Regions from separate parts of the Homo sapiens genome. Here region 2 is linked to region 1. Evidence: fine-mapped expression QTL. Tissue or cell type: whole blood. Region 1 holds a variant in brackets; the other region holds the start of a gene. All regions are shown on one strand. Distances are from middle to middle.

The links. PIP is the estimated chance that this variant, and not a neighbour inherited with it, causes the effect.
Region 2: SUMF1 starts here. The variant in region 1 is fine-mapped to the expression of SUMF1 in whole blood (TOPMed, PIP above 0.99).

Annotation. Positions count from the first base shown.
Region 1 is chr3:4,329,063-4,331,912 of GRCh38, forward strand. It overlaps a transcript of SUMF1 not described here. Among named protein-coding and RNA genes, the nearest start is that of SETMAR, 27 kb to the left of the region's middle. The variant C/T (reference allele first, on the strand shown) is at 1,767.
Region 2 is chr3:4,466,284-4,468,958 of GRCh38, forward strand. It overlaps SUMF1 (sulfatase modifying factor 1), which reads right to left and starts at 986. Exons shown (of 9, transcript NM_182760.4): 1 at 693-986. The coding sequence starts at 962. It overlaps LOC124909340 (a long non-coding RNA gene), which reads left to right and starts at 541. Exons shown (of 2, transcript XR_007095789.1): 1 at 541-1,225; 2 at 2,381-2,675. RefSeq lists a silencer at 683-862 and an enhancer at 1,033-1,212.

The DNA.
Region 1 (2,850 bases):
GGTTCACATGGTCTTGGGCATCTCTGCCTCTGTGGCTTTGCAGGGTACAGCCCTTCTCCTGGCTGCTTTAACAGGCTGGTATTGTCTGTGGCTTTTCCAGGTGCATGGTGCAAGCTGTTGGTGGATCTACCATTCTGGGGTCTGGAGGACGGTGGCCCTCTTCTCACAGCTCCACTAGGCAGTGCCCCAGTGGGGACTCTGTGTGGTGGCTCCAACCCCACATTTCCTTTCCACACTGCCTTATCAGAGGTTCTCCATGAGGGCTCTGCCCCTGCAGCATACTTCTGCCTGGACATCCAGGCATTTCCGTACATCCTCTGAAATATAGGTGGAGGTTCCCAAACCTCAATTCTTGACTTCTGTGTACCCACAGGCTCAAAACCACGTGAAAGCTGCCAATGCTTACGGTTTGCACCCTCTGAAACAATGGCCTGAGCTCTATGTTGGCCCCTTTTAGCCATGGCTGGAGTGGTTGGGACACAGGGCACCAAGTCTCTAGGCTGCACACAGCAGCAAGGCCCTGGGCCCAGCCCACAAAACCATTTTTCCCTCCTATGCCTCCAGGTTTCTGATGGGAGGGGCTGCCCTGAGGACTTCTGATATGCCCTGGAGACATTTTCCCCATTGTCTTGGCAATTAACACTTGGCTCCTCATTACTTATGCAAATTTTTGCAACCAGCTTGAATTTCTCCTTAGAAAATGTTTTTTTTTTTTCCTATCACATCATCAGGCTGCTAATTTTCCAAACTTTTATACTCTGCTTTCCTTCTAAACATAGTTGCAATTCCAAACCATAATTTTGTGAATATATAAAACTGAATGCTTTTAACAATACCCAAGTCACCTCTTGAACACTTTGTATTTCTTAGAAATTACTTCTACTAGATGCCCTAAATTATCTCTCTCAAGTTCAAAGTTCTGCAAATCTAATGCAGGGTCAAAATGCCACTAGTCTCTTTGCTAATGTGTAACAAGAGTTACCTTTGCTCCAGTTCCCAACAAGTTCCTCATCTCCATCTGAGACCACCTCAGCCTGGACTTTATTGTTCATATCACTATCAGCATTTTGGTCAAAGCCATTCAACAAGTCTCTAGGAAGTTCCAAACTTTCCCACAACTTCCTTTCTTCTGACCTCTCCAAACTGTTCCAACCTCTGCCTGTTACCCAGTTCCAAAGTCTCTTCCACATTTTTTGGGTATCTTTACAGCAGCACCCCACTCTACCAGTACCAATTTACTGTATTAGTCAGTTCTCATGCTGCTAATAAAGACATGCCTGAGACTGCATAATTTATACAGAAAAAAGAGGTTTAATGGATTCACAGTTCCACATGGCTGGGGAAGCCTCACAATCATGGCTGAAGGCAAAGGAGGACCATGCACGTCTTACATGGTGGCAGGCAAGAGAGCTTGTGCAGGGGAACTCCCATTTATAAAACCATCAGATCTCACGAGACTTATTCATTGCCACAAGAACAGTATGGGGGAAACTGCCACCATGAATCAGTTTTCTCCACTTGGCCCCGCCCTTGACACATGGGATTATTACAATTCAAGGTGAGATTTGGGTGGGGACACAGCCAAACCAAATCAGACAGCATGAGGCCAGATGAATTTGTCACTCAACTGTCTTTTTTTCCAGCTCATTCAAAAGATAAATGTTTTCTTATCTCTTAGTATTTCACAAAAATCTTTTTAAAAGAGAAAAGCAAATTTTACCATTACATTAGTGTATTACTAATGCTGAAGCCAATTTTTAGTAAAA[C/T]ATTGTCAACAAATCCATCTCAATCTCAATCAGTTTGATCACAAAGTAAGATTTCCATAAGTCTTTTTATAACCTTTTTACAGTTTTCTATTAAAGAACAAATCAATGCTCCTGTAAAACTCTGTTATTCCAATTCAAGGGCCCAGACTCTAATATCAATGTGCTTTTGATATTAATATTTACTGTATAGAAAAAGTAAATAATCATTTTAAATTTTAGACAACTTAACTGCACATACAATTCCTTTCACAAGGTCAGTCTTCTACAAACCTTCTACAATTTGCTTAAACCTTCAGTTTTGTCCTGTCATCTTACTTTAGGACAAAAATTTACCTTCTTTTCCAACTTTTTATATTTGTGTAGTTTTATCTGTCCTTTTTTTATTCCTTTAATTTAAAAAAAAAAAACCTTTAAACTAGGCAAAATTACTTTCCTTTTAACAAAAACCACATTTTCATGCCTTCTGATAACTTTTCTTAAACCAAAAACATGTCCTACTTCCCTTATACACTTTCGATGGAGAATTTTTTCTCTTGTATTTAGTAATTTCAATTATATACATTTATTACAATGTTAACTTTTAGTAACTCTTATTTTTAGTGAAAAACCTTGGAGGTAAGCCGTTTTAATTATGTACCAGATGCAAAGTCCAGAACAAAGGACAATGCCTGGAGCTAGGCCTAGTCATAGCCTAAAAACTTAAATCTAAAGATAAAAGGCTGGGCACAGTGGCTCACGCCTGTAATCCCAGTAGTTTGGGAGGCTGAAGTGGGTGGATCACCTGAGGTCAGGAGTTCAAGTCCAGACTATGCCAACATGGTGAAACCCTGTCTCTACTAAAAATACAAAATATTAGCTTGGCGTGGTGGCACACACCTGTAATCCCAGCCACTCAGGAGTCTGAGGCAGGAGAATTGCGTGAACTCAAGAGGCGGAGGTTGCAGTGAGCCAAGATCGCGCCACTGCACTCTAGCCTAGGTAACAGAGCAAGACTCCATCTCCAAAAAATTAAATAAATAAATAAATCTAAAGACATAAGTTTATAGACAAGTTAGGTATCAAAACAAATCATAGAAGCAAGTTT
Region 2 (2,675 bases), 140 kb after region 1:
GTATTTTTAGTAGAGACGGGGTTTCGCCATGTTGGCCAGGCTGGTCTCGAACTCCTGACCTCGTGATCCGCGCGCTTCGGCCTCCCAAAGTGCTGGGATTACAGGCATGTGAGCCACCGCGCCCGGCCAGTAAGTTATTTATATATCCCGGCACCTAACACATACAGGCGCTAAGCAAGACAGATAAATAATAGCAATAAAACAACTACAGTTTGCTTAGCCCTTCCTAAGTGCTAAAGTGCTAAGAATAGCAGGATAAACAATTCAAGCCCTTGTCCTCAAGCAGAGTGTACTCGAGGAGACTACAGATAAGTATACAACAACCCTGGTGAAGATACTGAGACCCAGGATCCTAATTTATTCCGTTAATAAGAGAGGAAATGGTGATTTAAACCATAATTTGATTGCCTTAAAATTATGAGATCCTCATTAAGAGAACAGGTTGGAGGGAGAAAGAAATAGGGGGTAAAGAAGTAACAATAACCCTCAAACCAAACTCCCTAATGGTCAATTAAATGGAGTCTTCCGGTGAGGCACGGAGAAGGAACTCCTCATACGGGAACAGCAGGTGCTCGATTTGGGGTGTGGTTATAACCTTTACTTCCCTTCCTACTAGTGCCTTGCTTTGCCTACTCCAACCCCGTCCAGGAACCGAGCAGCCCCCACCCGCCTCGGAGGAATCGATGGAGCACCTTTGAGTGCGCGAGTTGCCGCTCTCCGGGTACGGGGCCCGGAGCGTTAGCCTCCCGCGAGTATCGGTGAGCGGCTGCCGAACTGCCATGGGCGCCAGGCCGCTGGGGCGTGCCGCAGCCGCAAGAACCCGCAAGGGACCCCGCGCCCGCACCGGTCCCGGCCTCCTGGCTCCCTGCCGCTCCACACAGCAGCGAGAGCAGCAGCAGCAAGAGGACGAGACCCAGCTCAGGGCAACGTCCACACACCAGCCCTAGTGCGGGCGCAGCCATGTTGTCCCGCGGGCCATGTGACCCGGTTGGTCACGTGGCTGAGCCCTCCTTAAAGGGGCAGAATTTTGAGCTGACTTACGAAGTGACCAGGAGAGTTGCTCTTCACCTTTCTTCAGGTACTTCTTTGGCGCTGCTGCTTGCCTGTGCTAACGTCAAAACGCAGCAAAACACAAAACTCCACAAAACTCAAGGCCTTCCACAGACCGTGCACCCCTTTATGATTTCTTGGTTGAAAAATAACAGTCAAATTTGCTGGGCATTTGGTAAGTGCCAGAGTACTATGCTAAGCACTTCACTTTTTAAAATCTCATTTAATCCTCACAAAGACCCAGTAATGGCGCGCTTGTAGTCCCAGCTAGTCGGGAGGCCAAGGCAGGAGAATCGTTTGAACCTGGGAGGCGGAGGTTTCAGTGAGCCCAGATCCCGCCACTGCACTCCAGCCTCGGCGACAGAGCAAGACTCCGTCTCAAAAAAAAAAGAGAAATACAATACGGAATCAGAATCCGTGGGGACTGGACACAGCAATCCAGGGTTTCACAAGCTCTCCAGATGATTCTAATCCACACTTAAGTTTAAGAACCACTGTTCTACAGTTCCGTAATCGAACAAAATGCAAAACCAAAACAAAAAGAAGATGAAGGAGAAACTTACAGATTAAAAAACAACATAGCAGGCCGGGCGCGGTGGCTCAAGCCTGTAATCCCAGCACTTTGGGAGGCCGAGGCGGGTGGATCACGAGGTCAGGAGATCGAGACCATCCTGGCTAACACGGTGAAACCCCATCTCTACTAAAAAATACAAAAAATTAGCCCGGCGTGGTGGCACGCGCCTGTAGTCCCAGCTACTCGGGAGGCTGAGGCAGGAGAATGGCATGAATCCGGGAGGTGGAGCTTGCAGTGAGCCGAGATGGCGCCACCGCACTCCAGCCTGGGGACAGAGCAAGACTCCATCTGAAAAAAAAAAAAAAAAAAAAAACATAGCAGCCAGCTGCAATATGTGAACCTTATCTAAATACTAATTCAAACCTACTGAGTTCAAAATTTTTGAGATAATCAGGGAAATTTAACCACTAAGTCAAATTATAATATTTGATAAAATTAAGGAATTGCTGTAAATTTTGTTTTTAGGCTTTTAGGAGTAATAATGGTATTTGTGGCTATATTTTTTAAAAGAATCCCCTCACTGAGGTACACACACACTCACTGAGGTATACACACACACACACACACACACACACATATATATATATGGATAAAAATATAGGCAGTCAAAGATTTGCTTCCCAAAAAATGGGTAATCAGGGTCTGGCTAAAGATGAAGCATGATTGGCCATGAGTTGATAACTGTCATAGCTGGTTGATGGGCATCTGGGTGTTTATTGCACTATTCTAATGTAGCATCTGTTTGAATTTTTTTAGCATAAAGAAAAGACCAGCCAGGCACCGTGTCTCAAGCCTGTAATCCCAGCACTTTAGGAGGCCGAGGCAGGAGAATCGCTAGAGGCCAGGAGCTTGAGACCAGCCTGGGCAACACAGCAAGACCTTGTCTCTACAAAAAATTAAGAAAATTAACTGGCCATGGTGACGCACACCGGTGGTCCTGGCTACTTCGGAGGCTGAGGCAGGAGGATCACTTGAGCCTGGTAGGCAGAGGCTGCAGTGAGCCATGATTGTGCCACTGCACTCCAGCCTGGGTGACAAAGTGAGACCATCT